2 separate regions of the Homo sapiens genome follow, and region 1 is linked to region 2. The links come from fine-mapping of genetic effects on gene expression. A gene starts in region 2. The other region holds a variant in brackets. All regions are shown on one strand. Distances are from middle to middle.

Region 1 (5,381 bases), 54 kb after region 2:
GACTAGATCTCATGTGAACTCAGAGAGAGAGCTCACTTATCACCAAGGGGATGGCCCCAAGCCATTCATGAGGGATCCACCCTTATGATCCAAACACCTCCCACCAGACCCCACCTCCAACACTGGGGACTACAATTCAACATGAGATTTGGGCACAACATCCAAACCATATCACAGCCCAATATGGTTTGGTTGTGTCCCACCCAAATCTCATCTTGAACCGCAGTTCCCATAATTCCCATGTGTCAGGGGAATGACTGGGTAGGAGGTAATTGAATCATGGGGGCAGTTACCCCTATGCTGTTCTCATGATAATGAATGAGTTCTCATGAGATATGATTGTTTTATAACAGGCTTCTCCCCCTTTGCTCAGCATTGCTCCTTCCTTCCACCACGTGAAGAAGGACGTGTTTGCTTCCCCTTCCGCCGTGATTGTGAGTTTCCTAAGGCCTCTCCAACCCTGTGGAACTGTGAGTTAATTGAACTTATTTCCTAATAAATTATAATTACTGCTGGGCAGTTCTTTATAGCAGTGTGAGAATGGACTAATACACAGCCCAAACTAAGACATCTCCAAAGAGAAACCCTGTACCTATTAGCAGCCAGTTTCCATTCTCTCCTCCCCTGAACCCCCAACCACTTATCTATTTTCTGTCTTTGTGAAGTTCCCTATTCTGGGTATCTTATATACGTAGAACCATATGATACATTGTCTCATGTCAGGATTTTTTCACATAGTATAATATTTTCAAGACCCAACCATGTTGTACACCACAAGGTCAAACAGCAACCATTTGGAATCTTTTGGAGGTTTAGAGAATTCAATTCCTTTTCAATCAAGTGTTAAACAAAGTTTATAGGAAGGCATTGTTTTGGACTAGTCTCCTGCACTAGGCTCCAGCAGACCAGACCAAACCAAAATGGAGTCATTTATGTTAGCTGAAGCAGGTAAATCCCCAAATGGACTAGCGTTCTCCTGAAAACAAGAGATTCACAGCAACCAGAAAAAGCCAAGTTTGCCTGAGTCAGCATAATAAGGAAGTCCCCTCTGCTTTAACCCTTATAAGAAGTGACCTGTAGTAAGCTTGTGTTAACCAATCTACTTTTTAAAATTATTGTTTCCTCTGTTCCAATGATGCATTCTGAAAAAATTTTTTAAAAATTATTGTTTCCTTGTTCCCACTTACAAAATCTATTCTGCCACACCCAGGAGAACACTCATTCTATTCTATAGATTGAAGTGTTGCCCAGTTATAGAATAGCTAATAAAATTCACTTAGATTTTTAAACTAAATGTGTCATAATTTTATCTTTTGATATAAGTTGCTCCATTTGTACCAACAAGTGAGAATTGTGAGTGAAAACCCCACCAATAGTTTTAGATTCTGCAATTAGTAAATAAGTCGTAGACCATCTCCAAAGCCAAGGAAGTTTCAAAACAATAGCAGCAACCTAAGAGGTCCTGTTTATAGGGTTAGCTGAGCCTAAATAAGGATAATAATTAGGGAACTTGCTTTGAACTGTTGGGGGAAAAAGCCACAGTAGGGCCAGATTTAACACATATGCCAGAGAGAAGGATTGTTTTGCTTTAAGGAGCTGAACAGCTAGCCAGAAGGAAGAGCGAACCTTCGGTATTTTTTTCCTGCTCTGGCCAACATCATCATTCCTTTCATCTTCTCTCATAAGGAAGCTACTATGTTGTCCAGTCCTGGTACAAAATACTTATTCCATAAAAGCACATGAGTCTCTAGCCTGACAATCAGAAGGGACTTTCCCTTCAATCTCTCCTCTTTTGTGCTCTGCACTCCTTAATGCTTGGGGGATGTGGAGAGCAGTAAGAAAAGCAAAGCCAAAGAATTATGATCTCTGGGTCATTTAATGAAGCTAGTTTATTTATTTATTTATTTTAGAGCCTGAGACTTACTTGGGGATATTAAAAAGTCTGATAAATTGATCCAAATTCCACAAATATGGACTAAATGCAGTTTCATTTCAGTACAGTAAACACTGCCAGAGTGGCTACAAGGTGGCAGACACAGGGCTGGTCACTGGGGTCCAGAGACGAATGAGGCCTTGACCCTGCTCTCACTAGATGGGTTCACTTAGCATCCAGCTCTGGAATTTAAGCAGATCTCCCAGGGGGCATGTATGTCCGTCTTATACAGTACAATTAATTACTCTCCAAGTCTGCATGCACCTTCAGAACTGAACTCAGGTTAAGGATCAAGCAGAAGCTCAGATGTGGTTTGAATAAGGATGTTGGCCTTCC[A/G]TGGTTAAAGGTGTAAAACCAGATGTATATAAGCTCACCCTGTGATGAGACATCCCTGCAGAGCCTCCTTAGCTGGTTTTCATCACATTTTGAGATCAGGACACCTTAGAGTCACTTACTCAGGAGGTGGAGAGGGAAAGGCTACCTCCTCCTGCCAATTGCTGCACTTTTCATTCCCAGTGGGTAACAGAAGGCTGGGCACCCAAACATATTATCTAGGCCCAGCTGTGAGGCTAAGATGACATATTGTCCTCTCTGTATATAGGAAATGCTAGAGGACTAGAAAGGCTGACAATAAGACTGTTAAGGACTTTGAAAAGATTTAGAGCTGCAAGGAACTGTGGAGAACATTTGAGTCCTGAGCAGTGGAAGCAAGAGGGGAGTGGTGAACAGAATGGCCACTGGAGCAAAGAGCTTGTTGTCATTGTCCTTCTTCTCCATGGGTATGGTGCCTCCCAGCGGTGGGCCACCCACCTGGGCCCTGGGGCTCCAGCCCACATGAAAAAACCTGGAGCCAAATACTGCCATTGCGGCCTCCCTGCTTAGTTGAGTAGAGATTGAATAAAGGTTTCATCAGACAACTCACAAAAAAGAAAGTCAATGGGCTCACACAATCCCCTTTCCACAGAAACAGGGCCTATCTTGGACAAAATTATAAATTCTGGACTGGTTTCTGAGGTCTTTTTGTAACCATCCAATGGGTTCATCTTGCTGGCTGCCCAGACAGAGCCAATTTATTGGGACAGAAATTGCAACAGAGAAAGAGTTTAATACATGTAGAGCCAGCTAACCAGAAGGCTGGAGATTTATTATTACTCAAATCAGCCTCCTTGAAAATTTGGAGGCTAGGATTTTTTAAAGATAGTTTGGTGGTGGGGGCTAGGGAATGGGTGCTGCTGATTGGTTGGGGATGCACTCATAGGGTGTGGAAATAGTCCTTCTGCCCTGAGTCCGCTTTTGGGGAGGAGCCACAGGACTAGTTGAGTCATGAGTGGACTCATCAGGTTGTGAGAAATGGAAAAGTCAGAAAAGACAACTCAAAAAGCAAATCTTATGTTCTACAATACTGATGTCATTTACAGGAGTAATTGGGGAAGTTACAAATCTTGTAACCTCTGGAACAATGGCAGGTTATCATTTAACTATGCATACATCTTAGCAGAATTCAAGCCCCTCTTGTAATCCTAACTTTGCAGACTTTAGTTTAGTTTTGGGAAGGGCTATTATTATCCTTGCTTTAAGGTTACACTATAAGCTAAATTTCTCCAAAAATTAGCTTGGCCCATGCCCAGGAATGACCAAGGACAGTTTGGAGGTTAAGGCCAAGATGGACTTGGTTAGGTCAGATCTCTTTTACTGTCATGTTTTTCTGTTATAATTTTTACAAAGGCAATTTCACTTTCATATTTTATTTCTCATCCCAGTCACCCATGGGAGGCTATGGCCTTTTCTTTTCCTTATCTTCATCTTCTTCCATTGAAACTTATCTGTCCTATGTCTCATTCCTTCAGTTTCCTCTCAGCTGAACTGTGTTGAGAGGTATCCAATGTCTCCAAAGGTGACCACATATGTGATGGTTGGCATCGGCTGGGAAGGGAAGTCTTACCACTTAGCAGCAGGGACCAGTGTGGCCAACCCACAGGGTAGCCACAGGGCTTTCTTGAAAGCTTCTTGGAGAAACCCTGGAGATTGTCTGGGAAACACACCTTCTGACTTCACTCTGTTGAGAAATAACTCCGGCTATCTGGAAGCTGAAATTTTACTAGGGGAGATAAGAACTACATACAAATAAAATACATGGCCTGTATTAGTCCGTTTTCATGCTGCTGATAAAGATATACTGAAATTGGGAAGAAAAGGAGGTTTAATTTGACTTACATTTCCACATGGCTGGGGAGGCCTCAGAATCATGGCGGGAGGTGAAAGGCACTTCTTACATGGCAGCAGCAAGAGGAAGATGAGGAAAAAGCAAAAGTGGAAACCCCTGATAAACCCATCAGATCTTGTGACACTTATTCACTATCATGAGAATAGCACGGGAAAGACTGGCCCCCATGATTCAATTACCTCCCCCTGGATCCTCCCATAACCTGTGGGAATTCTGGGAGATACAATTCAAGTTGAGATTTGGGTGGGAACATAGCCAAACCATATCATTCCGCCCCTGGCCCCTCCAAATCTCATGTGCTCACATTTCAAAACCAATCATGCCTTCCCAACAGTCCCCCAAAGTCTTAACTCATTTCAGCATTAACCCAAAGTGCACAGTACAAAGTCTCATTTGAAACAAGGCAAATCCCTTCCTCCTATGAGCCTGTAAAATCAAAAGCAAGCTAGTTACTTCCTAGATACAATGGGAGTACAGGTATTGTGTACATACAGTCATGCCAAATGGGAGAAATTGGCCAAACCAAAGGGGTAGCAGGCCCCATATAAGTCTGAAACCCAGCAGGGCAGTCAAATTTTAAAGATCCTAAATGATCTCCTTTGACTCCAGGTCTCACATCCAGGTCACCCACAAGAGATGGGTTCCCATGGTCTTGAGCAGCTGTACCCCTGTGGCTTTGCAGGGTAGAGCCTCCCTCCTGGCTGCTTTCACAGGCTTGCATTGAATGTCTGCAGCTTTTCCAGGTGCACAGTACAAGCTGTTGGTGGATCTACCATTCTGGGGTCTGGAGGACAGTGACCCTCTTCTCTCAGCTCCACTAGGCAGTGCCCCAGTAGGGACTCTGTGTGGGGGCTCTGACCCCACATTTCCCTTCCACACTGCCCTAGAAGAGGTTCTCCATGAGGGCCCCGCCCTGCAGCAAACTTTTGCCTGGACATCCAAGTATTTCCATACATCTTCTGAAATCTAAGTGGAGGTTCCCAAACCTCAATTCTTGACTTCTGTGCACCCGCAGGCTCAACACCAAGTGGAAGCTGCCAAGGCTTGAAGCTTCCACCCTCTGAAGCCACAGCTCGAGCTCTGTGTTGGCCCTTTTCAGCCAAGGCTGGAGCAGATGGGACACAGAGCACCAAGTCCCTAGGCTGAACATAGCATGGGGACCCTGGGCCTGGCCCACAAAACCACTTTTTCCTCCTAGGCCTCCAGGCCTGTGATGGGAGGGGC
Region 2 (5,381 bases):
TATTGTATTTTAAAGGATCTCTTAGATTGGCAAAACTGTGGGTAGCACATTTCTGCTTCTTCACTAATAAATGAATCTTGATTTTGTTCAGATGATCAGAGCAATTTGTCTGGAGAAGGTGGATTCTTCCCTTAGACCCAGGAGAGGAACCATGATCAGCCTGATCCCTTTCCTCTTTGAAAATGATGGATTTAGCCAATGTGTTGGCTGACACAACCCAGTGCTCAGCAAGGAGACATAAGTGAAAGACTCCTAGTGATTTCTGAAAAGGTTTTCCTCTCTAACAAGGAAAGACACTTAGGAGAAAGAAAGCCTGGGACACTTTTTACCTGTCTTTGGATATTTTGTTTAAAGATATGATGAATGGAGCTACTGTAGCCATCTTACCACCATGAGGAGAGACAATGCTGTCACACTGAGAGCTACAAAATGAAAGATGGAAAAAGCTAGAGGTCTTGGTTTCATCACTGCACCCCCAATCAACCGGAACCATATACCTGCTACCTGCAGAGTCAAGTGATGTAAAAACTGCTTCATGGTTTCAATCACTTTTTCTTTAATCTCCATGATACACCGGATAAAGAGAAACAGCTTGAAGTTGACACATTATGCAAGAGAAAAAGAAATGTCTCATCTGAACCAGGATGAGACTCTGTTGATGCCAGGACCTCTATCTGTTGGGCTGTACTGCCTCCACGGGAATTTAGAAACTGAACAGATGGCACATATTTATTGAGCACCTACCAAGTGCCAGGCACTGTTCTGGATCACAGGAGTAAACAATGCAGAAAGGTCATTGTTGTCATGGAAATCACATTCTGGAAGACAGATGATAAACAAAAACACAATTAAGGATAGGTGAAAACACTCTTAGGCAACTTTCTAAGTATTGGTTCAAGCCAGTCCTGAGTGAAACCCTGACTCTGGAATCAGATAGAACTGGATTCAAATTCCACCCCCACCATTCACTGTGACCTTGGGAAAGTTATTTAGTCTTTCTGAGTATCAGTTTCCTCTTCTGTAAAATAACGATAATAAAAAAAACTAACTCAGCCGGGCATGGTGGCTCACGGCTGTAATCCCAGCACTTTGGGAGGCTGAGGCAGGAGGATCCCTTGAGCCCAGGAGTTTGAGACCAGCCTGGGCAACATGGTGTAATACTGTCTTTACAAAAAATTAGCCACTTCTGGTGGTGTGTGCCTGTGGTCCCAGCTACTTGGGAGGCTGAGGTGGGAGAATCACCTCAGCCCGGGAGGTCAAGGCTGCAGTGAGCCAAGATCGTGTCACTGCACTCCAGCCTGAGTGAAAAACAAAAAACAATACAACCTCATAGGGTTATTGTATTACATATTAAATAAGCAGACAAACTCTCTGTACAGTCCTTACATGGAGCCTGACACACAGTCAGTCTTACTAGATTATGGATCATCACCATTGTCATCATCATAATAATTTGTGCTGTCATAGTAATAATTTGTGCAACAACAATAATAATAATAATGCTGTGGGTATCAAATGATAAACAAGACATAGACCCTGCCCATTCAAAAAATCGTGGCAGCAAGAATCCAGATTTGGCCATAGAATGGTCAGAAGTTAGGCATTGAATTAGGCAGGAAACAAAAGAATTCCTCTGGTAACCAAGGTTGGGTTAACCTGGGCCCCCTGTCTCTACTCTTTCCCACACATGTTTTATAACCGTCACCCCCTTTTCCAAGAGGGAAAGAGGTATTCTGAATGAGCGCTGCTCTTCTTTCACATATGGCTACTGTTCCCAAGAGACTCAAGTGGGCTTTCTCTTTCTCTGCTGAAGTGAATAATATAGGGTGTGGCTCTCTGGATGGCACTTACCGGTTTGTGCTACAAACCAGCAAATACACACAGATAATCCCACAGATGATCTCACCAGACCTTGTCTCCCTTCCCTCATTCCCTCAAAATCATACCCACCTAATAATGTTTAGTGCACTGCAATTGAGTATTAGCTCCCGTATCTAGCTAATAAAATACGTAAACATCCAACAGCCGGGTCCTCACACCCACACACATACCCTCGCCTTTAGAAACATTTCCACGGATTGTCACACGAGCCCCTAAACTCTCTGTCACACTCTGCATGCATCTTCCCACAGACTTGCTCACACACTGGCTTTTTATTCGCAAGCCCATGGGGAATCTTTCACCTCTTAGACAGGAATTTCATTAACGAAGGGGAGGGGATGGTAAGAGGAAAGTACAGATGCAGGGGAAATAAATGAGAATCGTTTTTGAGGGAGACCTAAAACTGTATCATCCTAGCCCGAATCTCTCCCTTTTAACTGTTCTTTATGTGTACATTCTGTGCCCAAAAGAAAACAACCTTTCATTAATTGGGCAATTGTCCAGGCTCTTAGCTTGGCATCCAGCTCTCAGAGCTGTGAAATCAACCGCACCAGATCTACGCTTTGAAATGAGGCAACATCTAACTGGAAACTCGCTCAAAGTAAGGAAGTGGATGAGAAGACTCAGGGTCCCTTTTCTCTTCCCCGTCTTCTCTCAGCCACATCTCTCTTATCCTATCTTGGTGAAGAAGCTTGCTTGGCTAGGAGAGAGGTCAGGGACGAGAAGATAGTGACGAGAAAGTTCCATGAGACTCTCAGAAGTCCCAGCCTGAACATCAAACCTGAATAACCAGGAGAGACGTAACCTCGGCATACTTTCAGTGGTTTACCTCCTGCCCACGCTGCAGGTTTTTCAGGTCCTTGCTCGAGTGTGTGCTCATAGGCGTAAATAAACGTGCTATCAGCAGCCTGCGTCAGCCAGCCCAGCTATTTAAGCAGGCTGGCATCAGCAAACACAGCTTCCAAACCCAGGGCTTGCGCTTGCCTTTGCCTCTTCCACGTAAGTACCTTTCAAAGGTCTGCCTTTTATGCAGAGGAATGAGTTTGTGCAGGAACTAGACCAAAATGCTATCGTTACCGTATTTGCTCATCTGTTGGAAAACGGTAGAGGTGAAAGGGAGAATAGGAATGACAAGCTTACCCCCAAGCAGAAGCTAGGAAATGCTGCTGGGTGTAAGACATCAGTCCCTTACAAACAAAACTGCATGGGGTCGAGGGGAATTTGGAGGAAGGGGAGTTGGTGTTGGTCTTTTGGCCAAGCAGGTGAGATGTTTTTCTTACTCGCTTCTATTTTGGAAAGATAACTTTGAAACCAGCATTTGTCAGATGCCTATGATTTTCTCATTTAGAAGCAGATTATTGTTATTCTACATCCCAGACTTTTATCTAAAATCAGACATAATATCGTTTTAAAATATGTTTTGTGTTTGACAAGGGGAAGTGAGGGAGCTGTCTCTGGATGGAGAAGTGGCTTGATTTTGAATTTGCAGTTTATTGTTACTTCTGGTTCTCATAATACTTATTTATAACAACAAAAACAGTGATTTTTTTTTTTTGAGATGAAAAGGAATCCCAGGCTCTGGGGTTTAGAGAAAGTATAGGTTTGTGATATGTGAGTGGCATCCAAGTATTCAGGGTAAACTGTTAAGTAAAGTGGAATAAGAATCATTGAATAAAAAGGTACAATCTATCACATAGTTCAGATAAGAAGCTCTTAAAGAGAAAAGGAATGCAAACAGTTCCCATGAAGTGGCACTGCTACTGGACAGGGCCCTGTAGTGTGTTTAGTTAAGTAAGGTTAAGTATAACCAGGGCAGGCAGAGAACAAAACGAAGGTGCTGGGGAGGTGGGAAGGGAGGAGAAGGGAGGAGCAGATAGTAAAGGATTTATAATTAAACAACAGATTCATGAAAAGCAGATAGGAATAGAGCAGGGCATTAATTCCATAGTCTATCCCTTTGTATCAAGAATCTGGTGAAAGCCAAGGACCTTTCTCAGGTATTCATTCCTCGCTTCCTGAGCCTCCCCTTCCACCCCACACCCCAACCCACACCTTGACTCTCACTTTCTGGACTCCTAGAAGTCCACGGACCTAAATGAAGCTCATATGCTTATTATTATTTTTTTTTAACTGGGCTGAAGCTGCCGACTGAGGAACCTCTCCAGAAGTGGTGGCGAGTTAAAAACCTTCAACGTGGCAGGCACTTCTTAGCCACCAAACTGAAGCTTGGTTTTAAGTTCATGAAGGTCTTATGTCAATCAAGCAAATAATGATTAAGGGCTATATCTGAGAAAAGATAAGTTGAAGGCCAAGAGGAAGAGAAAAGAAAAAATGGATCTTGTTCTCAAAGAGCTTGAAATCTAAAGTCCAGGGAGATAATTAGATGTTATGTCCATGCACAAAATAGGATGTGTTGAGTGATTACATTTGTATAAAATGATAGAAAATGCAAACTAATCTATAGCAAAAAGAAAGTGGCTGGGTGCGGTGGCCCACGCCTGTAATCCCAGCACTTTGGGAGGCCGAGGTGAGCGGATCACTTGAGGTCAGGAGTTTGAGACCAGCCTGGCCAATATAGTGAAACCCCGTCTCTACTAAAAATACAAAAATTAGGCGGGCTTGGTGGTGGGCACCTGTAATCCCAGCTACTCGGGAGGCTGAGACAGGATAATTGCTTGAACCCGGGAGGCGGAGGTTGCAGTGAGCTGAGATTGTACCACTGCGCTCCAGCCTGGGCGACAGAGCAAGATTCTGTCTTAAGAAAAAAAAAAAAAAGAAAGAAAGAAGATCCATGGTTACTTGGGAAGGTAGGGGCAGGAGAAAAAATGTTTGGGGGGACTCCCAAGGTACACAGGAAACTTTTGAGGGTGATGGATATGTTCATTATTGTGACTGTGACCATTTCTTATATGGGAAGATTTATCAAATTGTGTACTTTAAACATTCAGTATTATAGCTGATTACTCCCAACAAACAATACTTTAACCACATTATTTTTATTTTTATTTTTTTGAGATAGGATCTCACTCTGTCACCCAGGCTGGAGTGCAGTAGCACGATCTCGGCTCACTGCAGCCTCTGCCTCCCAGGCTCAAGCAATCCTCCCACCTCAGCCTCCCAAGTAGCTGGGAACACAGACTTGTGCCACCACACCCAGCTGTAGAGATGGGGTTTTGCTATGTTGCCCAGGCTAGTCCCAAACTCCTGAGCTCAAGCGATCTGCCTGCCTTGGCCTCCCAAAGTGCTGGGATTACAGGTGTGAGCCACTGTGCCTAACCAACAATATAATTTTTAAATAAGTAAAAGCATTTCTAAAAATCAGCCTATGTAACATGCTGAACATAAAAGATGAGTATTTATGGAGAAAAAAATAAATTCAGTAAAGCACAGAGACCAGACAGTAAGGATCATAGACTTTTATAGAACTGGGAGGGTCCCTGGAGATAATCTAACCTAGTGGTTGTGGGGCCTGGAGAACTTAAAAAAGAAAAAAAAAATCA

What was found. PIP is the estimated chance that this variant, and not a neighbour inherited with it, causes the effect. A credible set is the group of variants that fine-mapping cannot tell apart.
Region 1: its variant is the best candidate, but not a certain one, in a credible set for the expression of HOPX in whole blood (TOPMed, PIP 0.64).

Annotation. Positions count from the first base shown.
Region 1 is chr4:56,624,496-56,629,876 of GRCh38, reverse strand. It overlaps a transcript of SPMAP2L not described here. Among named protein-coding and RNA genes, the nearest start is that of HOPX, 54 kb to the left of the region's middle. The variant A/G (reference allele first, on the strand shown) is at 2,270.
Region 2 is chr4:56,678,754-56,684,134 of GRCh38, reverse strand. HOPX (HOP homeobox) reads left to right here and starts at 2,839. Exons shown (of 4, transcript NM_032495.6): 1 at 2,839-2,880. LOC105377666 (a long non-coding RNA gene) reads right to left here and starts at 902. Exons shown (of 3, transcript XR_941078.3): 1 at 745-902. RefSeq lists a silencer at 2,792-2,841.